4 linked regions of the Homo sapiens genome follow. The protein of the gene in region 1 interacts with the protein of each later gene in a pairwise test. Each region holds a gene or a part of one and is shown in the gene's direction. Other genes may lie near its edges. The genes, in order: CSTF2, CDC73, METTL27 and TLE3.

Region 1 (7,030 bases):
CATTAGCAAAGCAGTTGCCAGCCTTCCACCAGAGCAGATGTTTGAGCTGATGAAACAAATGAAGGTGGGAGGAGGCATTAGGTTATGAATAAAGCAAATCACATCAGGTTTTCAAGGAGTTACTTGAATTAGTTCCCTGAGCTCAAATAGAAATTGTCTGTAGACCACCATTTCTTGCACCTTCAATATTCTGTATGTACACAGTATATTTTACATTTTGTACAAAGAGCTTTCTATTTTTGTACACAAACACAGCTATCCAAACAATCCAGCTGGAGTTTTGTGGCCCATAGATGTCAGATGTAGATATTAAAATTTGGCTTTTTTCCTAAATGATAATATCACAGTATTTGAAATGCCTCTTTCTTCTCTTGCCTGCCATGACCAAGGTTTTTTTGTGCCATGCAAAAACTAATGATAAAGAGCCTCTTGAATATTACATTTCTCAGAGGGGAATGGCTCTAAATCACTATCAGTTTCTAAGTCATAAGTATTAAACCTGAATCTGCTTATCTTCTCAGCTCTGTGTCCAGAATAGTCCCCAGGAGGCACGGAACATGTTACTTCAGAACCCTCAACTGGCTTATGCTTTGCTGCAAGCACAGGTAGTGATGAGAATTGTGGATCCGGAAATTGCCCTGGTGAGTGCTTCTGGTTCTTTTATGGAAATGGTCGGGTAAACCTTGAATGGGATAGGAACTACCTGATTGCTTTGTTAAACAGACAGCTCATAGGTTTGTCTTTTCACTTTTTAGAAAATTCTGCATCGCCAGACAAATATCCCAACGCTGATTGCAGGCAACCCTCAGCCAGTCCATGGTGCTGGGCCTGGCTCAGGATCCAATGTGTCAATGAACCAGCAGAATCCTCAGGCCCCTCAGGCCCAGTCTTTGGTAGGGCTTTATCCCTTAACATTTTTTTGTATCTGTCTTAGAATGTCATTTTCTTTTTAGGAGAATATATTGAAAGAAGAATGGTCAGGAACCAGAGATGATAATTTCAATTTCCAGGCATAAAAGCAATTTCCAGGTTGCAGAGCACATGACATCTGAATGAATATAGATTCGATTCCAAGTTTGTAAAACAAAGAGATCCTTCCCGTATGCCCTTTTCTTATAAGCTAACTTTGTGTGTATGTGCATGCCTGGCACTGTGGTTGGCACTTCGTTATTCCATATGCATTATCTCATTTAATCCTCAAAGCAATTGTATGAGGTTGGCACTCTTATTATCTCCATTCTTACTGATGAAAAAAGTAAAGCTTGCTTTCAAAGCATGACACAAAACCTTAAAGCCATAAAAAATTGATACATTTGAAAACTAAAAAATTTCTATATAAAGAAAAAAATAAGTATCAAAGACATGACAAATTGAGAAAAAGTATTTACCACACATGTGATGGAAAACAGACTAATAAAGAGCCCATAGTCATTCACAAGAATGTTTATTGCCTTAGAGTGAAAAATTGGAAATGTCCTAAATGTACGTCAGTGGAAGAATGGAGAAAATGTGTGGTACATTCATCCAGTGAAATACTGTACAACAGTTAAATAAACTACACGTATCAACATGAATGACTTTGAAAAACATAATTCCATACAGCAGTTAAGATGAACTAGGATACATAATATCAACACAACTCCAAAACAGTGACATACGGACATGAAACTAAGTGAATATGGATGCATTCCCGAAATGTAGGATATATGTTTCTGCATAAATCCCCAAAATATGTGGAATGAGTTGCAAAATAATATATTGAGTATGTAATGATTCATATAAAATTTTGAAACATTAAGAAGACGTCTTAGTGGTCATCAAAGGAGAAGAGAGCACAGGATGCAATTGGGGAAGACCGTACAGGCCATTGGTTTATTTTATTTACTTATTTATTTCCTAAGCTGGGTGGCTATTTTATTTTCTATATGATTTGTATATCTGTAATTTTTCATAATAAATTTTAAAAGGCCTCCTATAAATTAGTAAGAAAATTTCCAATAACCCAGTAGAAAAATGGGAAATAGACATAAATATTTCACAAAAGGAGAAATATAAATATATAAAAATTTATTCAACTTCAAAATAAGATAATGTAATAAATTATCATTTATATATGTAATGTTATAAGATAATGTAAATAGAAACTACAATAAGCTACCATTTTTCATCTCTCAGGTTGGCAGAGGTACAGGGCAGGGACCAGCAAACATTTTTCTGTAAATGATCAGACAGTAAATATTTTTGGCTTTGCAAGTCACAGGATCTGCCACAGCTACTCTGCCATGGTAGTATGAAATCAGCCATAGGCAATAAGTGAACAAGTGTGTGTGGTTGTGTTCCGTTAAAAGTTTGTTTATAAAACCAGGCAGTGAGCCCGATTTGGCCCATGGGTCATAGTTTGCCAACCCCTGCTCTAAATAAATAAATACATTTTCAGAGATAGAAAAAAAAAGCTAAGGCCCAGAGAGGTTAGCTGGTCCAAAAATTGACACAATTATAAGTGGCAGATCTATTTCTGAACCTGGTTTTATCTGACCTCACAGCCAGTTTTCTCTTAACTACTTTCCTATACAGCTCTTCCTTTTCTTTTGTAGAGTTTTGTGTTCCTTAAACGTATATGTGATTTTTTTTATATAACTTGGCTTTTATTCTTTATTTATTGAGCTGTTTCTAATTCAAGGGACTACTCAGTTTTTTGGGGAATGCACAGATGAAAAGATGACATTCTCTTTTTCTCAACGAGTTTTAATGTAGCATTTAAAAAAATATATTTCACATTCCCCCAAAACCAGAATTATATCTAAGGACAGGAGTGAGAAAAGATTGGTTAAATTAAAAAAAAAATTTAATTTTAAAAATGTGGACTACCAGCAGTTGTTTTTTTTAAAAGAGTCCCAGTCTCCTTTTATGTTTCTTGGGTTTAGGGCTTTTTTTTTTTTTTTTTTTTACTCTTATTGGCAGCCCCAATCATGAAGTTAACAGTAGGTGTTATGTGCTGCCTTGCCACACAGATAAGACTTGTCAATCTCTACATTGAGAATATGTTCCATCTTAACCGTGTTCCATATAACCAGGCTCATGACGTATATTGCTTCTGTGGAGTTTAAAGTGTGTGACAAATCTAATGCTGCATAAGACATGCCATACAAAAAGGATGTTTAGTAGTGTATTTGGGGCTGTTCATTTGAAGAGGACTTTTAAGGTCGTAGACTTAGTATATTGAGTATCCACAGAGGCATATACATACTCTGTTTTTTTTGCTTGGTCAGGGTGGAATGCATGTCAATGGCGCACCTCCTCTGATGCAAGCTTCTATGCAGGGTGGAGTTCCAGCACCAGGGCAAATGCCAGCTGCTGTCACAGGACCTGGCCCTGGTTCCTTAGCTCCTGGAGGTAAGTTTCATTTAGTCTTCACCATTTCAGTACTTGCTAAAGTTTTGTCATAGCCACTGTTGCAGTGCAGCCAAATATGATAATGGGATCCTTAGGTAAAATTAATACACAGCTAGAAAGTATATATCTTAGGTGGAGGAAATAGTAGATTTCTTACGTTAAATCCTGTATGTCTAATTATAAGAACAGGGAAAGGGACAGTAAAGTGAAAGAGCATAGTAAAACTTCCAAGTTAACAAGGGGGAAAATGGAATGAGTGGAAACAAAATCAAGCCAGCAAAAATAGAGAAGAGGAAAAAAGTAAGAGACAGTGTAAAATAAGTAATAATAAATGTAGAGTAAGATGGAAGGAATAAAAACTAATGTAGTTGTTACTCTGCTAAATATGAATGAACTGTCAGATTAGGTTCAAAAGCTCATGAAGAAAACAGACAAAAAAATACAAGGTCACATTTGTTATAGCATATTAAACTGACATAAAATTGTATTTTAACAAACATAATCAGAACAAACAACAAAAGGGAAAAAGAGAAATTTAAAAGCTATGTACATTTATTGAAAATGTATAGATCGGCAATTAATAAGAGTATTGCTCATATACTTGTAACTGTTCCTTGTTCAACAATTGTAACTAAGAAGATTGAGTGAAATAATGATTCCCCATATGAAACATCTGTATGAACACATGATGTATTACCAATATTTAAAGTTTTTTTATGTAACAAACTTGGTTTTTGTTAATTTATCTAATCTAGGGTAGGTTGAGTACAACACTACTCATGGAGAATGATTTAATTCTAAATTGTTCTGTTCTGTAGAGAATCCAGTCTGCAGAGCTAAGTTGATGAGGAATGGAAGAAGAGATTTTTTGAAGAAATTTCTGCAAACTCAGGAATTTTTTGTATCTACTTTAGGATTGTTATGTATCTACTTTATCCTAATAGAGTTATACTTGTATTTAAATTATCTTTCATGACAGGAGGTCCATGGGTAAGTGACATTGTTTTCCTGTATTATAGAAGAGCTTCCTGCCAAGAGTTTGGTAACCAATGAAATGAATTATTCTTATTGAACTCACTATTCTGTCACTGAAACATAAAGTACAAATTGTAAATATACTAACAAACCCCATCTTCTCTCTCATTGCATTGTTGAATATCTTCCTTTGTAGGTTTCTGCTTGTGGAGCAGAATGAGGAAATTTGTAAACTCAGCCACTGTTCTAATTTTTCTTTTCCGCTGTTCTAATTGGTGTTTTTTCTTGTCTGCCCTTTATCTTCTAGGAGGAATGCAGGCTCAGGTTGGAATGCCAGGAAGTGGACCAGTGTCCATGGAACGGGGGCAAGGTAAATAAATATTAATGTCTGACTAATGTTAATTGGTCATGGAAGTGTTCCACATCCACAGTATCTAATATGGCAGCCACTAACCACCCATGGCTATTTCAATATTAAGTTAATTAAAATTAAGTAAAATTTAAAACTCAGTTCCTCAGTCACAATAGCCACATTCCAAGTGCTCAGTGGCCACAGGTGACTAGTGGATACCATACAGGACATTACAGATATAGAACATTTCTATCATCGTAAAAAGATCTATTGGACAGTGCTGGTCTAGACTTTCCACCTGGTGATTCAGAGTCCAGCTCTACAAGAATTGATAATGAAGCAAGTGGATCGTTTGTTTCCTGATTCCTAGTCTAATAATTCCACTGACATGTTCTCTCTCCCTGTATGGATATCTGTTGACTGAGTAAGGAATTTTAATAATGAGCATGTAAATATGTGGCTGGGTATGTAGAAGACTAGATTTAAACCCCAGAGAAAACTGGGAGGGAATCATAGGTCTGTAACGCCTACTTAATGAACATATGTTGTACCGTGGCTGTACTGCTATATACAACAGTAGCTGCTGCTCCAAAATCTCCATGTTGTTTCTTCATGTTACTGGAGTTTGAAGGACAAGAAAGTGCAGTGGTTCAGTTGGAAACAATGTTAGGAGGAGAGATCGTAAGAAAAGAGAAGGAACTGAGTGCATACTATATGCCAGGCACTTTAATTTTCATAAATAATCTTGTGAGTTAGGTGGCAGCACCTCAGTTTTACAGGCAAAGAGTTGGAAGCTCAGAATAAGTTACTTTCTCAAGGGGACAAGGTAAGTAAATATTAATGTATGAGTAATGTGGACTGGATTTGGTGCTCTTATTTTCTCTTCCAACTAGTAAGTGGCAGAGCTAAGATTCAGAAGTCTTTGACTCCAGAATCTGTCCTCTTTCTGTCACTCCACACTGCCTCTGTTAACTTCCAAGCATATTCTTCAGTGTCTTCTACTCTTATTCCTTGGGAATAAAATGATGGGAAAGACTGCTTTGGACAAGCATAGAGAAGCTTAAGGTTTTTTCTTTTGTAGCATATGGTTTATAAGTGGAACCCATTTAAAAAGCAAAATATTGGCCAGGCGCAGTGGCTCATGCCTGTAATCCCAGCACTTTGGGAGGCTGAGGTGGGTGGATTGCTTGAGCTCAGAGGTTTGAAACTAGCCTAGACAACATGGCAAAACCCCGTCTCTATAAAAAATACAAAAACTAGTTGGGCAATGGTGGTGTGCACTTGTGGTCCCAGCTACTTGGGAGGCCGAAGTGGAAGGATCACTTGAGCCCAACAGGTTGAGACTGCAGTGAGCCATAATCGGGCACCACTGCACTCCAGCCTGGGCAACAGAGCAAGACCCTGTCTCAAAGAATATATATATATACACACACACACACATATATATACACACATACATACATAAACATTAATATACAAGCCTGTGGTTTTTACACTGGGGTTGGTTGCTGAAGTGACAGAATTAACTTTTTCTTGTTAGAAGTCTGACAGCAGGACAAACTCCCTGGCCAAATATCTCATATTTTCTCTAAGCATCCAATGCTTTTGTGCTATTGTACATCCCTCTATCCCCACCGCACCACTGTCAATAGATCATATATGTTCCCCAGAGTATTTCTGCAGTAATGAGAAGGTATTAGGGTTTCAGTCATACTTCTGCCTGTCATGGGGCCAGCCCTCAATCCATCAGGTTTTAGCTGTTTAACGCATACTTGCACAAGACATCTTCCTATTATAGTTATCTTCACCTTTTTGTCAGAAATTGGCAAAGGGAAGTGACTCATGTTTTGAGGGTATTTCCAGGATGTCTTCATGCAGAGACTAAGTGAGATGAGCTTTCTTTTATAGTTTCCTTCAGTACCCAGCAGAGGAAGCAAGAGTCTTTTCGTGTGTGCCTAGTTTGTCTTACTTTTCCTGAAATCCATGCTGCTTTTAATGCTGAAAGGAGATGGAGATGTTTGAGAAGATACTTCTTGCTTCCCTGCCATGTTTGTTTAGTGTCGGTTCCCATGTCATCTCATTAGTCTTTGTTTGCTGTTGTCATGATGTTTATTATCAAAGACTTGCTGTGGCAGAGTATTTCTTGTGGAGTGATATTCTCTTTCATCATGTAAAGTTCATTCACTGCATTTCCCCATCTGATACATTTTTGACAGCAGAAATTTTTGTGCTTTAAAATGTGACAAAAATAGAATTGCCGTACTTCAGTTATGGCCGTTTCAGAATGAATCTTGCCTTCCAGATTCAGTG
Region 2 (7,030 bases), on another chromosome or scaffold:
AAGTTGTTTATATAAATGAATCCAGCCTGAAGAGTTGAATTAGAATTGTCAGTAAAAAAAATCTTGCCTTAATTATTTCAGGACTGGAAAGGAAGGCCAACCCAGAGAGTACTACACATTGGATTCCATTTTATTTCTACTTAATAACGTGCACCTTTCTCATCCTGTTTATGTCCGACGTGCAGCTGTAAGTAGAATTCATTTTACTTATCTATCTATTTATCAGTTTTATTTTTATTTATTTAAGAGACAGGGTCTGGCCTTGTTGCCCGGGCTAGGGTGCAGTGGTGTGATCATAGCTCATTGCAGCCTCGAACTCCTAGGCTCAAGTGATCTTCCCACCTCTGCCTTCAAGTAGCCAGGACTGCAGGCCTGTGCCACCGTATCTGGCTAATTTTTTTTGTTGTTGTTAAAGATGAGGGGGTCTTGCTGTGTTGCCTAGGCTGGTCTTGAACTCCTACCCTCAGTGGATCCTCCTGCCTCGGCCTCCCGAAGTGCTGGGATTACTGGCATGAATCACTGTGCCTGGCCAATAATTCATTTTAAAACTTTTTTTTTTTTTTTGAGATAGGATCTGGCTCTGTTGCCTAAGCTGGAGTGCAGTGGTGTGATCTCGGCTTACTGTACCCTCTACTTCTCGGGCTCAAGCCAGCCTCCCACCTCAGTCTCCTGAGAAACTGGGACTATAGGCATGGCCCACCATGCCGGGCTAATTTTTGTATTAACACATTTTTTTTTTTTTTGGCTTCGTGGTAGTAGGTATCATTTGGAATGGATAGCTTCCCTCATGGGTTTCAAATCAAAAGAATGAAAGGTTTGTATGAGTGTCTCCAGGAGAGTCAAAATTAGGTGACTGTGTGACTTACACAGACTTTTTAATCTGTGATATTTTTTCATGTAAAGTGTGGGTAATGTTTATAACAAAGGAAGTTTTAAAGGGATTTATAGAGCCAGGCTTCTTAGTGCACGCTGGTAATCCCAGCTACTTGGGACTCTAAGGCGGTAGGGTTGCTTGAGCCTAGGAGATCAAGACCAGCCTGGGCAACATAGTGAGATGCCATCTCAAGAAAAAGAAAACCCGAAACGCTAAAAGTATTTATAGAGATGTTTAGAAAAACTTGTAAGCCTGTGGAAGGACCCTGTTACTTCAGAACTCTAGTTTAATCTCAAGAAAACTTTTTTTGGTTGTAAGGATTAAGATTAGCAGACATTTAAAAAAATTGTTTCTTAATCAGTTTTGTGCAGCTGTTTTAGTACTCTGGAGAAGTTCATTTGTTTTTAGTTTTGCTTGCTTTCTCAGTGTTTGAAAATTTATTACTCAGAGGAAATATTTGGAAACAACTTGAAAAGAACTAATTTCATAAACTATGATGATGAGATTCTTCATCTGTAGGGAAGTATCATTAAGACCTAAATTATAGCAGTATATTATAATTGATAAGTAAATAAGATTCAGAGTTATTTGGATAGGATAGCTGTATGACATGGAAAAGTACTATAATGCCCACATAAAATGGCCTAAAAGATATTTAATTTTTTTAAATGAGCTTTTCCCTCAGATTATTTTTGGTAGAGTTGAACATAAAATTTTTTGAAGATATAATTGAAATAATTAAATGTCTGCTTTTAATATTTGTTGCTTTTGCTTACAAGTATACACTTAAAATTAAGTATGAAATGTATTTATAAATAACTACTTTTTCCCATTTCTTATAGTTCTTAAAACAATCTTCTTAAACTTTTCTTATAGTTCTTAAAACAATTTTTTAAAATATCACTGTGTCTGTCATCACTGGAGCTGCTTTTTGAGTTACCTAACACCGTTGCTGGATCACATTAAGCTGTGTGAAACTTAACTTCTATAACTCTAACCTCCCTCCCAACTAGAAATAGTTAAGGTTTCTGGCTTATGTATCTTTCAAACAATAACTTGTTGTCTAAAGCAACTAAAAGCCAGGTGTGGTGGTGCATGCCTGTAGTCCCAGCACTTTGGGAGGCTGAGCTCAAGTGGGAGGATCACTTGAGCTCAGGAGTTCAAGACCAACCTGGGCAACATAGGGAAACTTTGTTAAAACAAAAAATAAAAAAAATTAGTCAGGCGTGGTAGTGTGCACCTATACTCCCAGCTGGCTACTCAAGGGGCTGAGGTGGGAGGATCACTTGGGCCCAGGAGGTTGAGGCTGCAGTAAGCCATGATCACACCAATGCATCTATCCTGGGTGATAGAGCAAAGACTCTGTCTCAGGGAAAAAAAAAAAATGTGTGTGTGTGTGTGTGTGTGTGTGTGATTATAGCAATTGAGAAAGTATCCCGTCACTTAGTGGGCTTTGTATTAAACCATAAGGCTTCTGCTTTCCTGAGTAAGAAATATATATTTATGTTACATATTTAAAAAAATAAAATTAGAGTGGGACTACTTGGGAAAATAAGGGGAAAAAAATAGCACCAGCTCCGTCTTTAAGGTTATTTTAACTCAGATCTTTAAAAACTAAATTAGGTAGTTCTTACAGTGTTTTGTTGGATATATTCATTTTAGTGTAACAAAGATTCAGATAGTTGGCTTAGATTTATAGATTCTGTTTTTGGGAAATGGTTGTGCATATAACTGATAGCTGTAATTGTTACTGTGGACCTTGGGACCCTTGGTTGCATAAGATTTAACTCATTTTTCATAAGTATTTGCCAGATTGAAAGAGTAGGATTCTAAAATTCCAAAATTCTATGAATTCGAGATTGTTGTCTCCTAATTACTTTGTGTTATTTGCTCTTTCCTGTGCGCAGACCACTCATTTTTTTTTTTTTTTTTTTTGAGTGCAGTGGCGTGATCTCGGCTCACTGCAACCTCCGCCTCCTGGGTTCAAGGGATTCTCCTGCCTCAGCCTCCCAAGTAGCTAGAATTACAGGCACACGCCACCATGCCTGGCTAATTTTTGTATTTTTAGTAGAGACGGGGGTTCACCACGTTAGCCAGGTTGGTCTTGATTTCCTGACCTCGCGATCCGCCCGCCTCGACCTCCCAAAGTGTTGGGATTACAGGCGTGAGCCACTGCGTCCGGCTGAGCAGACCACTCTGAAAACAGATTCCTGATCCTTAGTTCCTATTTTAGTGTGAGTAGATGTAATCTTTTTCAGTGGATTGTGATGTGTACATAACTCAGTAGTGACCAAATGATGATGTAAGTTATTAGACTTAGAAACAGTAACTTAAAATTAACTCAAATCTTTTAACTGTTTATGATATTCCATATAGACTGGTTTATTTTTATTTTTTATTTTTTTTTGAGACAGAGTCTTGCTCTGTCACCCAGGCTGGAGTGCAGTGGCAGGATCTTGGCTTGCCACAGCCTTACCCTCCCGGGCTCAAGTTGTCTTCCTCCTTCAGCCTCCTGAGTAGCTGGGAGTATAGCTGGGACTGCAGGCGCTTGCCACCATGCCTGGCTAACTTTTATATTTTTGTAGAGTTGGAGTTTTTCCATGTTGCTCAGGCTGGTCTCGAACTCCTGGGCTCCAGCAATCCACCCACTTTGGCCTCCCAGAGTGTTAGGATTACAGGCATGAACCACCATGCCTGGCCTAGGCTGGTTTAAAAGAATACAAGCACAAAAAAACTCTGCACTCAAATTTTTAAACTCATAAGGAGAAACTAAAATTTAGCTTGACCTTTTTAAAATAAAAGGTTAATTTTTAAGTGATTAAATACAGTTTATCTAAATCATTGAGGAGTCAGTGCAGAATGTTTGGTGCAGTAAATTATAATAAGTATTCAATATAAGGTCATTGGCCAAAGATACTAAAGGTTCTTGTTGTTACTTCATTGTTACACATATAAAGTGACAAAGGATTTAAACTGAAATCTGTTAGCTACCAATTTTTCTTGCACTGTTTGTTTGTGTTTCAGACTGGGTCTCGCCTCAGTCTCCTGAGTAGCTGGGATTATAGGCTTCTGCCATCACGCCCGGCTAATTTTTTTTTTTTTTTTTTTTTTGAGACAGTGTCTCACTCTGTCACCCAGGCTGGAGTACAGTGGCGTGATCTCGGCTTACTGCAACCTCTGCCGCCCAGGTTCAAGCGATTCTCTTGCCTCAGCCTCCCGAGTAGCAGGGACTGCAGGTGCCTGTCACCGCGCCTAGCTAATTTTTGTAGTTTTAGTAGAGATGGGGTTTTACCATCTTGCTCAGGCTGGTCTTGAACTCCCGACCTCATGATCCACCCGTCTCGACCTCCCAAAGTGCTGGGATTACAGGTGTGAGCCACTGCGCCCTGCCTAATTTTTGTGTTTTTAGTAGAGATGGAGTTTGACCATGTTGGCCAGGCTGGTCTTGAACTCATGACCTCAAGGGATGCGCCCGCCTTGGCCTCCCGCAGTGCTGGGATTACAGGTGTGGGCCACTGTGCCTGGTCATTGCTTTATTTCTAATGATTATTTTCTGTATATCTTCCTGGAATTTCAAAAAGAAATTTATTTATTTATTTATTTATTTATTTATTTATTTAGAGACGGAATCTCTCTATGTTGCCCAGGCCGGAGTGCAGTGGTGCAGTCTCGGCTCACTGAAACGCCTGTCTCCGCCTCCTGGGTTCCAGTGATTCTCCTGCCTCAGCTTCCTGAGCAGCTGGGATTACAAGCATGCTTCACCACACCCAGCTAATTTTTGTCTTTTTAGTAGAGACGGGGTGTTGCCATGTTGGCCAGGCTGGTCTTTAACTCCTGACCTCAGGTGATCCACCCACCTCAGCCTCCCAAAGTGCTGGGATTCTAGGTGTGAGCCACCGCGCCCAGCCAAGAAAATTATTAAAAGTAACATGTTTAATACATTTTCAGGATTTTTATTAGGTTCTTTTAGCCTAGTCATTTTGTTCAAATGTGATTTAAAATATATTGTATCAAGATATATTGGAATAAAATTCAGACATTACATGTTAATATCAAGTTGTAAGAAAATTATTAAAAGTAACTAACATGTTTAATAAATTTTCAGGATTTTTATTAGGTTCTTTTAGCCTAGTCATTTTTTACAAATGTGATTTAAAATACGTTTTTTCAAGATATGTTGGAATAAAATTCAGACATTACATGTTAATATTTATTAAGTTGTGTATCATTGTTATTCATTTCATATCTCATTTAAAATTTTGGTTTTAGACTGAAAATATTCCTGTGGTTAGAAGACCTGATCGAAAAGATCTACTTGGATATCTCAATGGTGAAGCGTGTGAGTACTTTTTAAATTGTTCCCAGTCTTAAACAGACATTGTTTCTTTTTTCCCCTATGAAATAATGATTAGAGGGAAGAGAATTTGTATTTCCACCAAAAAATTAACCTACCTTCATTTTTGTCCATGTGCTCACCTTTTTCTTATACAGTGGATGCACTGTCTTTGCCCTTATGGCCAGTCACCCCTTCCTTGTGTGTGGATTCCATCTCCTTTCACAGTCTCAAAGACTTTGTCTTCGTAAATTGTTGTTTCTCTGACATCATCAGTTTTCTACTTTCTTCTGGATCATTCCCTTTTAGAATACCTACAGTAAGATTTCATGTTTAAAAAATGTTTTTGATCCCACATTCCTACTGTCTACTGCTTCATTTATCTCCTCCCTGATACTGTAAAATATTCTGCAAGAGTTCGTGTGGTATCATTGCTTCTTTTTTACCTTTGTTTCTTTCTTGAAGCCACTCTAGTCTGGCCTTCATCCTTACCATCCCACTAAAATCACTCCTTGTAAGGTCAAAACTGATTTAAGGATTGCTACATCCTTTGGTCTCTTGTACCATACTTGACCTCTCAACAGCATTTGATACTGTTGACCACTCATTTTTGAAAGCCTTTCTTCATTTGGCATTTGGAACACCAGCCTCTTGGTTCTCTTTCTACTCGTTGTTCACCTCTCAGTTTATTTTGGTTACTTCTGTACCTGACCTCTAATTCTTGAAGTTTCCAAGACTTGATCTTTTTTTTTATCTTTTCTTTTAACCTGTATTCTCTAGGTGATCTCTTTCAGTTTTATGGCTCAGATATCATATATATGCTGATGAAATTTCAAGTGTTTTTTTCAGCATTGATTTCTTTCAGGGCACCAGATTTATAAATTTACTGTCAACATGTTTCCTTGAATGTTGAATAGGCATCTGAAATTTAACACTGAAAATGGAATGCCTGATTCCCTCTTTCCCTTCTGCCCTCACACAGAACAAAAACAAGTCTGTTGTTTTCTCAGTGTTCCCACTTTAGTAAGGGGTAGTGAGACGCTCTTCCTGCAGTTGCTTAGGCCAGAACTTTGGTGACATCTTTGTCACATCTCACATCCATTCTATCAACAAGTTGTTTTTTTCTCTTTTTAAAAGTATGACAACTTCTTACCATTCTACCTGCCCTATTTCATCCTTGCTTTTTAGATTATTGTATAGCTTCCTCACAGGTCCCCACTCTTTATTTCCTATAGTGTAGTCTTAGCAATAGAGTGTCCTGCTTTTGAAAAAGTATATAAACTTGATTGTGTCACTCACCTGTGGCTTCCCATCACTCTTAGAATAAAACTCATACTTGTTACCCTGGCAGTCATCTTGCCTCTGCCTAAATCTCTGTGACTCCATCTTCTACCATTCTTCCTTTGCTCATAACAGTCAGTCTTTTTGGTCTTTTAGCTATGCTAATCTTAGCACCTTTGCACTTTCTCTTTCTATCTTGAGTTGTCTTTCTCTACATTATCACATGGCTCACTTGCTTACTATTTCATTTAGATCTGTGCTCAAGTGTTTTTCCAAATGTTGTTCCATCAGAGAAGACTTCTCTGACCACTCTTATCGAAAATATAGTATTCCTTTCCTCCTTCTGTGGTTTTTATATAGTGCCATCCTGATTTATTTTTCACCAGATCTCATACATTGACCTGAAATTATATATCTGTTTATGTACATAGTGTCTGTCTTTCCCATTAGAAGGTAAATCCTAAGGGGACAGACAGTTGTTTGTCTTGTTAAATACCCAGCATTTACAATAGTGGTGCATGGTAGGTTCTTAACTGAATAAA
Region 3 (5,457 bases), on another chromosome or scaffold:
TCAGGGGAGATGAGAGCTGTGAGCACCGTTTGTAAACTTTGCACATTGCGCTGCCCGGGCAGGTGTGTTTCCCGTCTCCTGCTGTGTTCTTGCTCAGCGCTTTGTTCTGCTCTGGGCAGAGGGCTCAGACCCTGCCCTCTGGGCCTTGATCTCCAACCCACTGGGGCCCAGGAAGGGGCCAGAGAGCACAGGGCCTGGTCAGAGGTGGCCCCACGAGAGCCGTGAGTGCTCACTGCTCCCAGAATTTATTTATTTATTTAATTTGAGACAGAGTCTTGCTCTGTCACCAAGGCTGGAGTACAGTGGCACAATCTCAGTTCACTGCAACCTTCACCTCCCAGGTTCAAGAGATTCTCCTGCCTCAGGCTCCCAAGTAGCTGGGATTACAGGAGCCCACCACCACACCCAGCTAATTTTTGTATTTTTAATAGAGATGGGGTTTCATCATGTTGGCCAGGCTGGTCTTGAACTCCTGACCTCAAGTGATCGCCCGCCTTGGCCTCTCACAGTGCTGGGATTATAGGCATGAGCCACTGTGCCTGGTCCTGCTCCATGAATGTAGAGAAGAGAGGCATTTCCAAGACCAGGTGAGGAATCCACATGGGGTGCACCCTAAGGCAGAAAGGAGAGGGGCTGAGCATGAGAACGAGGAGGCGCTGGCTGGCTGCAGGACAGGAAATCATAGAGGTAAAAATGCTTCCTCTCCCTCCCGTCTCTGCCAGGCCCAGCAGAGGCTGTGGCTAAGCCTGGGCAGGTCTGGGCAGGCATCTGGGGAGCCCTGAAGGCTGACAAATGCAGGGACACGGATGGGGTCAGCTGGAAAGGTCGAAGTTGGGCCCAAGAAGACAGGAACTTTCTACTGGGTGAAGCAGCCAGGATCGGACTTCCTAGCCCAACCTGTGCTTGCTAAGCCCTTCAGCCCCATCAGGCTGCCCATGGGTGACAGTCTCCCCTGCTCCGGAGCCTCTCCTCTCACTGCGCTCCCTTCTATCAGCAACACCCTGCTTCTCCTTACCCCCTCCTCCAGGAAACCTTCCCAGACCAGTCACTTGGGCTTCCCCATCTCTCCTTCTCAGTGCACTTGGGGCCACCCTGGGCACGCACACTATAGGTGCCTGGACCTGAGGTGACAAGGCCATTCAGCCGGCACTTACTGTAGGGCACTTCAAACACACATACCAGCCTTCCTGTGATGTTAGATAATCATCCTCTCTGTGCCAGCTGGGAAACTGAGGCCCAGAGAGGTGAAGGGATAGCCCAAGATCCAAAGCCCACATGGGAACTTTCTTCCTGTCCATTCAGACACAGTCACATCCTCCAGCAGAGGCGTGGGTGAGTGGTGAGTGGTGAGGAGGGTGTCTCCTCAATCCAGGAGAATTACGTCAAGAATTCCCCACCAGGCACAGTAGCTCACCCCCATAATCCCAGCACTTTGGGAAACCGAGGCAGGAGGATCCCTTGAGCCCAGGAGTTCAAGAGCAGCCTGGACAACATAGCAAGACCCCATCTCTACAAAAAAAAAATGTTTAATTAGCCAGGCGTGGTGGTGAGCACCTGTGGTCCCAGCTACTCAGGAGGCTGAGGTGGGAGGATTGCTTGAGCTCGTGAGTTGGAGGCTACAGTCAGCTATGATTGCTCTGCTGCACTCCAGCCTAGGAAATAGGGTGAGATCCTATCTCAAGAAAGAAAAAAAAGGGGGGGTGGGCAGGCACAGTGGCTCACGCTTATAATCCCCAGCGGGCAGATCACCTGAGGTCAAAAGTTCGAGACCAGCCTGGCCAACATGGCAAAACCCCATCTCTACAAAAAATACAAAATAGCCGGGCGTGGTGGCACGTGCCTGTAATCCCAGCTGCAAGGGAGGCTGAGACAGGAGAATCACTTGAACCCAGGAGGCGGAGGCTGAAGTGAGCCAAGAGCATGCCATTGCACTCCAGCCTGGGTGACAGAGCAAGACAGGGTCTCAAAAAAAAAGAAAGAAAGAAAAAGGAATTCCCAATGTAAAAGACACAGAAAGACTGCCCTGGGAAGGAAGCTGGAAGAATTTCTTTTTCTTTTTTTTTTTTTTTTTTATTGGAACATTAATTAGGTTTTATTTTCACTTTTTGTTTCCACAGTAACATGTATGGGATTAGGTTACAGTGTTTATTTGTCCCCAATCTTTTATTTATTTATTTATTTATTTATTTATTTATTTATTTTTAATTGATTGACTTTTTATTTTTTTTTATTTTTTTTAAATTTATTTATTTATTTATTTATTTTTTATTGATAATTCTTGGGTGTTTCTCACAGAGGGGGATTTGGCAGGGTCATAGGACAATAGTGGAGGGAAGGTCAGCAGCTAAACAAGTGAACAAAGGTCTCTGGTTTTCCTAGGCAGAGGACCCTGCGGCCTTCCGCAGTGTTTGTGTCCCTGGGTACTTGAGATTAGGGAGTGGTGATGACTCTTAACGAGCATGCTGCCTTCAAGCATCTGTTTAACAAAGCACATCTTGCACTGCCCTTAATCCATTCAACCCTGAGTGGACACAGCACATGTTTCAGAGAGCACAGGGTTGGGGGTAAGGTCATAGATCAACAGGATCCCAAGGCAGAAGAATTTTTCTTAGTACAGAACAAAATGAAAAGTCTCCCATGTCTACTTCTTTCTACACAGACACGGCAACCATCCGATTTCTCAATCTTTTCCCCACCTTTCCTGCCTTTCTATTCCACAAAGCCGCCATTGTCATCCTGGCTCGTTCTCAATGAGCTGTTGGGCACACCTCCCAGACGGGGTGGTGGCCGGGCAGAGGGGCTCCTCAGTTCCCAGTAGGGGCGGCCGGGCAGAGGCGCCCCTCACTTCCCGGATGGGGGGGCTGGCCGGGCGGGGGGCTGACCCCCCCCACCTCCCTCCCGGACGGGGCGGCTGGCCAGGCAGAGGGGCTCCCCACCTCCCAGTAGGGGCGGCCGGGCAGAGGCGCCCCTCACTTCCCGGATGGGGGGGCTGGCCGGGCAGGGGGCTGACCCCCCCACCTCCCTCCCGGATGGGGCGGCTGGCCGGGCAGAGGGGCTCCTCACTTCCCAGTAGGGGTGGCCGGGCAGAGGCGCCCCTCACCTCCCGGACGGGGCGGCTGGCCGGGCGGGGGGCTGACCCCCCCACCTCCCTCCCGGACTGGGCGGCTGGCCGGGCAGAGGGGCTCCTCACTTCCCAGTAGGGGCGGCCGGGCAGAGGCGCCCCTCACCTACTGGACGGGGCAGCTGGCCGGGCGGGGGGCTGACCCCCCCACCTCCCTCCTGGACGGGGCGGCTGGCCGGGCGGGGGGCTGATGCCCCCACCTCCCTCCCGGACGGGGCGGCTGGCCTGGCGGGGGGCTGACCCCCCTACCTCCCTCCCGGATGGGCGGCTGGCCGGGCAGGGGGCTGACCCCCCCACCTCCCTCCCGGATGGGGCGGCTGGTGGGGCGGGGGGCTGACCCCCCCACCTCCCTCCCGGATGGGGTGGCTGCCGGGCGGAGACGCTCCTCACTTCCCAGACGGGGCGGCTGCCGGGCGGAGGGGCTCCTCACTTCCCAGACGGGGCGGCTGCCAGGCGGAGGGGCTCCTCACTTCTCAGACGGGGCGGCCGGGCAGAGATGCTCCTCACCTCCCAGACGGGGTTGCGGCCGGGCAGAGGTGCTCCTCACATCCCAGACGGGGCGGCGGGGCAGAGGCGCTCCCCACATCTCAGACAATGGGCGGCCGGGCAGAGACGCTCCTCACTTCCTAGATGTGATGGCGGCCGGGCAGAGGTGCTCCTCACTTCCTAGGTCGGATGGCGGCCGGGCGGAGACGCTCCTCACTTTCCAGACTGGGCAGCCAGGCAGAGGGGCTCCTCACATCCCAGATGATGGGCGGCCAGGCAGAGATGCTCCTCACTTCCCAGACGGGGTGGCGGCCGGGCAGAGGCTGCAATCTCGGCACTTTGGGAGGCCAAGGCAGGCGGCTGGGAGGTGGAGGTTGTAGCGAGCCGAGATCACGCTACTGCACTCCAGCCTGGGCACCATTGAGCACTGAGTGAACGAGACTCCATCTGCAATCCCGGCACCTCAGGAGGCCGAGGCTGGTGGATCACGTGCGGTTAGGGGCTGGAGACCGGCCTGGCCAACACAGCGAAACCCCGTCTCCACCAAAACCAGTCAGGCGTGGCGGCGCGAGTCTGCAATCACAGGCACTCGGCAGGCTGAGTCAGGAGAGTCAGGCAGGGAGGTTGCAGTGAGCCGAGATGGCAGCAGTACAGTCCAGCTTCGGCTCAGCATGAGAGGGAGACCGTGGAAAGAGAGGGAGAGGGAGACCGTGGGGAGAGGGAGAGGGAGAGGGAGAGGGAGAGGGAGAGGAGGGAGAGGAGGGAGAGGAGGGAGAGGAGGGAGAGGAGGGAGAGGGAGAGGGAGAGGGAGAGGGAGAGAGCGTCCCCAATCTTTTAAGTCGAATTTCTTGCCTTGAAGGGACAACCATCCCCAGCAGAGATGGCCCAGGACTGTGGCTCCTGCCCCTCCCCCACCTCACCTACCCCTCTCCCCCAGGTGGGCTGGTGTGTCTGACCACCAGGACCAACTCGTCCAACCTTCAATACAAGGAGGCTCTGGAGGCCACCCTGGACAGGCTGGAGCAGGCTGGGATGTGGGAAGGCCTGGTGGCCTGGCCTGTGGACCGCCTGTGGACCGCTGGGAGCTGGCTACCTCCGAGCTGGAGGTGGTATCCGGCATCTCTGCCAAGGATGGCTTCATCTCCGGCATTGTCTACCTGTACCGAAAGTGGAAGGCGACCCAGGTTGAGGAAGTGAGATCCAGCCCCCAGCCCCCAGCTGGCCCCTGACTCCATGTGGCCTTAGCTGGGCCCATCTGCTGGGCCTCCTCTGCCTCCCCTGTAAAATGGGACCTCCGAACCAACCCTGCCCCTCAGAAATGCCCTGCCTATTAAATGAGCTCCCAGAAAACAGTGGCATCTGTTCCTGTGGGTTCCAGAATCGAGACGTAGCAGGGTGTGGTGGCTCACACCTGTAATCCCAACAATTTGGAAGGCCAAGGCAGGAGGATCTCTTGAGACCACGAGTTCAAAACCAGCCTGGGCAACATAGTGAGACCCCTATCTTAAAGAAAAATTGTAAAAATTAACACTTTGGGAGGCCGAGGCGGGAGGATCACTTGAGGTCTGGAGTTCGAGACCAGCCTGGCCAACATGGCGAAACCCTGTCTCTACTAAAAATACAAAAATTAGCTGGGCATGGTAGCACACCCCTGTAATCCCAGCTAGTTGCGAGGCTGAGGCAGGAGAATTGCATGAGCCCAGGAGGCGGAGGTTGCAGTGAGCTGAGATGGTGCCACTGGGTGACAGAGCGAGACTCTGTCTCAAAAAAAAAAAAAATTGGAAAAATCAGCCAGGTGCCGTGGGTGCATGCCAGCTATTTGGGAGGCTGAGACAGGAGAATCACTTGAG
Region 4 (7,030 bases), on another chromosome or scaffold:
ACCCAAAGGACACTCAGCTGTGTTTCTGTGAGAGGAGGCAAGTTACTATCCCACACAGATGGGTGGGAATGACCAGGTGAGAGCAGCACACTGACTGTGAAGGATGGTGGATGTAAAACCAGCTGGGAAGAAGGTTCTGGCTTCAGAGAGAAGCAGAAGGGCAGGCTGTGGGGGCAGGGGCTTAGAACTGCTATGATGGAGCGGGTGTCAGTGCGGCTGCCCAGTGGGTACAGGAGTGGAGTAACCCGGGGCCTGGGCTAGGGGACAGCCTCACGGGGAGACCGTGTTGAGCTGGAGTGGAGCCTGTTGAAGGGCAGGGCTGGAGTAGAAAGCATGGACTTTGGGGTTTGGCCTGGCTTCAGGTCCTGGCCAGTAGAAGGACAGGGTGGTTTGGGCTCAGTCAGGGGTGGGGAAAGTGTGGCCTCTTACTGACCAGTTGGCTTCTCTCTTGGTTGCAGGACAGTGATGGAGACAAGAGTGATGATCTGGTGGTGGATGTTTCCAATGAGGTATGGGCAGGCCCGGTCGCAAGGGGGCTCTTGGTTTGGCATGGTTTGGAATTATTCCTCCCCAGGGTGGGATCTATTCTGTCTGTTCTAGTATTACTGGCAGCCTGAGCAGGGAGACAAGGCCTCCAGTCTTGGGGTCTCAGGGGGTCAAGAGGAGCAGGGCAGGGCTTTGCTGCATGGTGTCTGGGCATTTATGGGCCTGGAGGGCCTCCTGCAATGGGTCTCCAGAGAGACACCCCCAAAGATCCCAGGTAGGGGCCATCTTCTATTCCCCGTGATCCTCCGTCCCCCCAGGGTCTCAGCCTCAGGGGCCTGAGGAGGAGCTGGAGAGCATCTACATTTGGCCAAACCCAGCCATGCTGATTGAAGTCCTGAACTTGTGTTTGACATTGGGAAGACCATCCTTCCACCCTCCCTAGGCCTCAGTCAGACCAGATGGTTAAGAGCTAGTTTTTCCTCACTGTGGGGCCCCCAGTCTTTCAGCCAAGCTCGTCTTCCCATCGCCCATGCCCTCTCTCTTCCCACTCCCAGAGCAGGGAAGCCTCGAGGCTGGCTGTTGCTTTCAGTGCATCTCTGCATCACTTGTGTTTTCAGGACCCCGCAACGCCCCGGGTCAGCCCGGCACACTCCCCTCCTGAAAATGGGCTGGACAAGGCCCGTAGCCTGAAAAAAGATGCCCCCACCAGCCCTGCCTCGGTGGCCTCTTCCAGTAGCACACCTTCCTCCAAGACCAAAGACCTTGGTCATGTATGTGGGGTCTGGGTGGAAGGGAGTGGGAAGGGAGCGGCAGGGACTGGAGCTGGGGTGGTGCCGATTGGCAGGCAGAGGGGTGGAGTGGGAGAAGCTGGGTGGGTGATTGGCCCCGGTTTACCTTCTGTGCCTGCTGGGCCTGTGCTAATGAGTTAACGTTTCTGAGCCTCGGTTGCTACGTCTGTAAAATGGGAGTGATCACCCCAGTCCCTGCCAAACAAGGTTGGGCAAGGATTGAGAGGCTGTTCGGCAGAAGCTTCATAAGGGTCTGGCTCTGGGCTTCACGTTGGGACCGGCACCAGTTGTGCCCGGCTCCTAGGAGAATGGAAGCCTCATGGCCTCCCTTGTTCTGCATCTCCCCTCTTCAGAACGACAAATCCTCCACCCCTGGGCTCAAGTCCAACACACCAACCCCAAGGAACGACGCCCCAACTCCAGGCACCAGCACGACCCCAGGGCTCAGGTCGATGCCGGGTAAACCTCCGGGCATGGACCCGATAGGTATAATGGGTAGGCACCATGGGCTGGGTTAATCTGATTGGGGGGAGGGGGTCTGCTCTTGGCCAGGGCAGGGGTGACACACACGCATGGGATAGAGCACAGGCAGTGTCTCCCAGGGCCTGCCCCTGGGGACTTCACGGTCAGATTTGAGGAGGTGACACCAGGGTTTCTGGGACCCCTGCTGGGCCAGACATGAAAGCAGCATCAGACGGGTCAGGGCTCCCAAAATCTGTTCCCACCCCTGTCATTAGTCCAGTGAGGCTCTAAGCAAGCCCATTTGGGCCTCCATATCCTGCTCTGTAAAAAGAGGTGGGTGCATCTGCCAAGCTCTAAGCTTCTTTGGCTCTGAAGGCAGGGATCCCACTTGGGTGGGTTCAGTCTGAGAGGACTGCCTGGAGCAGGCAGCTTAAGAATGCAGGGAGGGTTATTGCTGGGTGAGGCGGCCATGGCCATGTCCCAATCCACCTAAGGCCCACCTCCCTGACGCCCACCCCTCGCAGCCTCGGCTCTGCGCACGCCCATCTCCATCACCAGCTCCTATGCGGCGCCCTTCGCCATGATGAGCCACCATGAGATGAACGGCTCCCTCACCAGTCCTGGCGCCTACGCCGGCCTCCACAACATCCCACCCCAGATGAGCGCCGCCGCCGCTGCTGCAGCCGCTGCCTATGGCCGATCGCCAATGGTGAGCTTTGGAGCTGTACGTAGACCTTTTGGCTCCTTTCTTGGGGACTGGGCGTGGTGTGGGGAGCCAGTGGTTGGACGGGTGCTCCCCACATGCTAAAGGGGCCCCTCAGGGTCTCAAGGCCAGGCAGCTGCCCCTGTGGGAAGGTGTATCGGAAACAATTGAGACTTGGCTGGAAGGGTACACTCTTTGGGGCCAGCAGACCTGAGTTCCATCCCCCACTGGCCTGTGAGCCGCCCTGTGACCTCATGCAAGGCAGCCTCCCTTTTAGTCTGCAAAACGGGGCTGACACCTGGCTTTCCCAGCTCTGGGGGGTAGGAATCCCAGGGCAAGTCAGGTGATGTCCATGGAGCAGGGGTCTCGTAGATGGGACTGGTTGTACAAGACTTTCTATTGTGGTGAATAAATAATAAGAGTTAGGGGTCGAGCGCAGTGGCTCACGCCTGTAATCCCAGCACTTTGGGAGGCCAAGGCGGGTGGATCACCTGGGGTCAGGAAATCGAGACCAGCCTGGCCAGCCAACGTGGTGAAACCTCATCTCTACTAAAAATACAAAAATTAGCCGGGCGTGGTGGCAGGCGCTATTCGGGAGGTGAAGGCAGGAGACTCACTTGAACCTGGGAGGCAGAGGTTGCAGTGAGCCAAGATTGCACCACCGCGCTCCAGCTTGGGCGGCAGAGCGAGACTCCATCTCAAAAAAATAAAAATAAAAAGAAGAGTTAGGGTTGGCGGGGAGAGGGGCCCTTTTTCAGGAGACAGTTTTCCTTTTTACCTCCTGGACCTGGGGTGGCCTCCTCTCCACTGGCAGGCCCACTAGGACCACAGGAGAGGAAAGAAGTAGGGCAGGGCCAGCTCTGCCTTGCAGAACAGGGAGGATGCTGGTTCACAGTGGGGTCTGCACTGTCACCCCTTCCCTGCCACGGGCTGTCCTGGGCCTGTGTCTCCTCTGAATCAATGGGCTCTGCTCTGCTCAGCTTGTCTCTTGGGTTACAAAGTGGCAGAGCCGTGCAGGTAGGACCCCGGGTGGGTGGTGGAGGAGGCAGGGGTGGGGGTGTGTGGCAGCACGGCTGATGGAGGGCTGTCTTGCCTTGCTTTACAGGTTGGTTTTGACCCTCACCCCCCGATGCGGGCCACAGGCCTCCCCTCAAGCCTGGCCTCCATTCCTGGAGGAAAACCGTAAGCTTTGGCTATACTTACTGCATGCTTTGTAGGGTGGGCAGGAGAGAGCACTCTACCCCCAATTCCAACAACGCCCCTCATCCCCTGACCAAGGGTTTGCCCTGGTGCACCTCCCTTTGGAAAGGTATCTGTCCCTCTAGAGGCACCGAGGGCTGGTTGCAACCCCAGGAAACTGTAGCCAAGCCACACTTCTGAGCACCCACAGAAGCTCCCTCCGACAGAGGAGCCATGGAGTTAGCTAAGTACATGGCCACTGGGCTGGGAGAGAAGGAACACTCCTCACCGAGTCACCTGGAGCTGTGGTGGGCCTTGCCGACTCCTTTGGGTTCGACCTGCTGGGAAGGCCCCAGTGCCGCTGGTCGCAGGCCCTTCCCTGTCAGCAGTGCTTCCCTCCCCTGGAGGGCACACTCTCCCCGGCCCTTCACTTCCTTGGGTTGCTAGGAAACTAAAAGATTGAGCCTACAGATAATGCCGAGACACTGCCTGACACAGTCCTCTAATTGTCAACGAGAATCTAGATGCTGATTGAGAGGGCACCCACCAGAGCCTGAAACAGCAGGCAGGCCAGGCTGGCTCACCACAGGCTCTGACATGGACTTTCCCATTTGCTATTGCAGGGGCAAGCAGATCCCTTCCCTAATACCACCGGCTCCTAAAGCAAGAGGTGGCATTTCAGCCAGGCCCTTTCCAGGGTTGGCATGTTGGGGGAATGTATGGATCGTGGGAAAGGGCATTCCAGGACACCTGTGGGTTTCTGGTCTGATTTGAAGCAAGGATATATAACTGGGTGTAAAAATCAAAGCTGGTCTGTTAATCATGTCTACCTCGATGGAGCCATCCCAGTACATGGGGTTACTGGGTTCGAATGGTTTCAGAGCAGAGGGGGCTAGAGGCAGGGCAGCCAGTCGGGGGCAGTGCAGATGACCTGGGCCAGGCCTATGGGAACTCTGAGGGGCCGGGGTGGATGGCAGCAGTGACGGTTTCTCACCTTTTCAGAGCGTACTCATTCCATGTGAGTGCTGATGGGCAGATGCAGCCCGTGCCCTTCCCCCACGACGCCCTGGCAGGCCCCGGCATCCCGAGGCACGCCCGGCAGATCAACACACTCAGCCACGGGGAGGTGGTGTGTGCCGTGACCATCAGCAACCCCACGAGGCACGTCTACACAGGTGGCAAGGGCTGCGTGAAGATCTGGGACATCAGCCAGCCAGGCAGCAAGAGCCCCATCTCCCAGCTGGACTGCCTGGTGAGAATCCCAGGGCTGCTGCGCCGCCTCCAGCTGGTGTAGGAGGATGGGGCAGCCTGGGCCACAGGGGAGAGCCCCAGGGCCTGGCTCAGCATCGTATTGGCTGAGCAACTTTAGGCAAGCTGACTAACCTCTCTGAGCCTCAGTTGTGCCTTCTGTGTGTGGGGCTGATTCTGACCTCCTGGTATTCATGAAAGATCAAAGGGTTGTGAATTTGAGGAATGGGGACAGCCTGGCAGCTGCTGGGTATAGGGGGAGGCTGTAAGCAGGACTGGTGAGGGTGCTCGGTGTTGCTGGACAGGACTCTCCTGGTGCCCAGGAGGGGAAGTAGGCAGCACTCAGCCCTGCCCCTTCTCCCTCCAGAACAGGGACAATTACATCCGCTCCTGCAAGCTGCTCCCTGATGGGCGCACGCTCATCGTGGGCGGCGAGGCCAGCACGCTCACCATCTGGGACCTGGCCTCGCCCACGCCCCGCATCAAGGCCGAGCTGACGTCCTCGGCTCCCGCCTGTTATGCCCTGGCCATTAGCCCTGACGCCAAAGTCTGCTTCTCCTGCTGCAGCGATGGGAACATTGCTGTCTGGGACCTGCACAACCAGACCCTGGTCAGGTGAGCCGGCAGGAGGGAGCATTAGTGCCTCGTCCTGGGGAAGTTTTTACCCATCCTGCCTGGTCTTGTTTGCTGTGACCTTGGCCCTGTCTGAGGCACTGTGGGGTGGCCAGAACCGTTGGGATGAGGGATGCACAGGTGAAAAGACAGCTCCGCCTGCCTTATGCGAGGGACAGAGGAGGGAGGGCCATTGGGCCCAGGAGTTGGAGAGGGCTCTGGGAAGAAAGTGGAGCTGGAGCATGTCTGGGGAAGTGGAGGTCAGATTAGTGGAGCAAGCAGAGAGTCTGGGAGCAGAGCCCCAGAGACCAGATTAGGGAGACCCGACTGGGAAGCCACATCACGTGGTAGCTAAACAAGCCTCAGGACAAAACTGCTGGCTTTGAATCCTGCCTCCACTATGACCTAGTGCAAGTCGCTGAACCCCTGCGGCTCAGTTTCTTCCTGTGTAAAACAGTGACAGTGGAGCATCTTCCTCTGACTGTGCCGCAGCGCAAAGGCAGACGGGTGCCTGGCCCAGCTGACTCTTGTATACATGGGCTGTGTGTGTTATTCAGCGTGTTCATGGATGGCCTCAGCCCCATAGTTCATGCAGGATGAAGAGATAGATTAAGAGGGCAAATTGAGGGCGTGTGGAGTGCGAGTTAAGGAGCTGTGTCCTAAAGGCAGTGGGGCCCTGCATTCTCTTTATCAGTCATCTCACACGTAGCTTCCCCAGGGCCTTCCTGCCTTCCTCACCTTCCTGAGCCTCCAGCTCCACCTCCTCCAGAGGCCCACCCTGGAGGGACTCAGTCTCAGAAGGCTAGTGCAAGGTCCCTTTTTCACCTCCCCCCCCCATTTCCCAGGGGACTTGTCCCTGGGCAAACCCTTCCGTGGAACTGGAAAGAGGCCTGGAACTGGAAAGAGGCCGGGGCTAGCTTTGCTGCAAGCTCGCTAAGGGACCATGCGCATAGTGCACTCTTCTGGGCCTCAGTTTTCTCTTCTGCTCAGACTGCCCCTGGGATGGCCGCCACCTGGCAGTCTGTGGTTCCCGGGACTCACCCTCCTCCCTGCTTGGCTTTCGTAGGCAGTTCCAGGGCCACACAGATGGGGCCAGCTGCATAGACATCTCCCATGATGGCACCAAACTGTGGACAGGGGGCCTGGACAACACGGTGCGCTCCTGGGACCTGCGGGAGGGCCGACAGCTACAGCAGCATGACTTCACTTCCCAGGTGTGCGGCCCAAGACTCCTCCCTTCCCAAAGAGCAGTGTGTTCCCTCCCTCCGGGGCCCCAGTGGCTGGGTCAGGGACAAAGGGACCCTCACAGAGTGGCCACGGCCAAGAGACTTGGGACCAACCTGAGCCATCTGGGAAGGCTTCCTGGAGGAAGCAGCAGTGAAACAGATGGAGATGACCTTGGGGTTGGACACATTTGGCCCAACTGTGGAAATTCGATTCATTCTCTGCTGCTATTGAGCACTTTGTCCTCGGCGTCCTCATTCACAAGATGGAAATAATAGTAGCACCCTCCTAGGTCTGATGTGGGCACCTGAAATGATCCCTCTAAAAG

Evidence for each region.
Region 2: the proteins of CSTF2 (region 1) and CDC73 interact in binary tests that used the Homo sapiens proteins (3 or more experiments, as listed by UniProt).
Region 3: the proteins of CSTF2 (region 1) and METTL27 interact in binary tests that used the Homo sapiens proteins (3 or more experiments, as listed by UniProt).
Region 4: the proteins of CSTF2 (region 1) and TLE3 interact in binary tests that used the Homo sapiens proteins (3 or more experiments, as listed by UniProt).

What each region holds. Positions count from the first base shown.
Region 1 is NC_000023.11:100,823,365-100,830,394, forward strand, and holds part of CSTF2 (cleavage stimulation factor subunit 2), read left to right. Parts: coding exon 1-64; intron 65-521; coding exon 522-641; intron 642-755; coding exon 756-893; intron 894-3,269; coding exon 3,270-3,393; intron 3,394-4,675; coding exon 4,676-4,738; intron 4,739-7,030. UniProt on the Homo sapiens protein: One of the multiple factors required for polyadenylation and 3'-end cleavage of mammalian pre-mRNAs. This subunit is directly involved in the binding to pre-mRNAs.
Region 2 is NC_000001.11:193,125,031-193,132,060, forward strand, and holds part of CDC73 (parafibromin), read left to right. Parts: intron 1-81; coding exon 82-187; intron 188-5,143; coding exon 5,144-5,213; intron 5,214-7,030.
Region 3 is NC_000007.14:73,834,090-73,839,546, reverse strand, and holds the end of METTL27 (methyltransferase-like protein 27), read left to right. Parts: intron 1-509; exon of another isoform or gene 510-687; intron 688-4,466; coding exon of another isoform or gene 4,467-4,544; coding exon 4,545-4,804; 3' UTR 4,805-4,957; downstream 4,958-5,457.
Region 4 is NC_000015.10:70,052,889-70,059,918, reverse strand, and holds part of TLE3 (transducin-like enhancer protein 3), read left to right. Parts: intron 1-458; coding exon 459-509; intron 510-1,103; coding exon 1,104-1,256; intron 1,257-1,627; coding exon 1,628-1,760; coding exon of another isoform or gene 1,761-1,769; intron 1,770-2,260; coding exon 2,261-2,460; intron 2,461-3,544; coding exon 3,545-3,621; intron 3,622-4,620; coding exon 4,621-4,870; intron 4,871-5,233; coding exon 5,234-5,481; intron 5,482-6,544; coding exon 6,545-6,692; intron 6,693-7,030. UniProt on the Homo sapiens protein: Transcriptional corepressor that binds to a number of transcription factors. Inhibits the transcriptional activation mediated by CTNNB1 and TCF family members in Wnt signaling.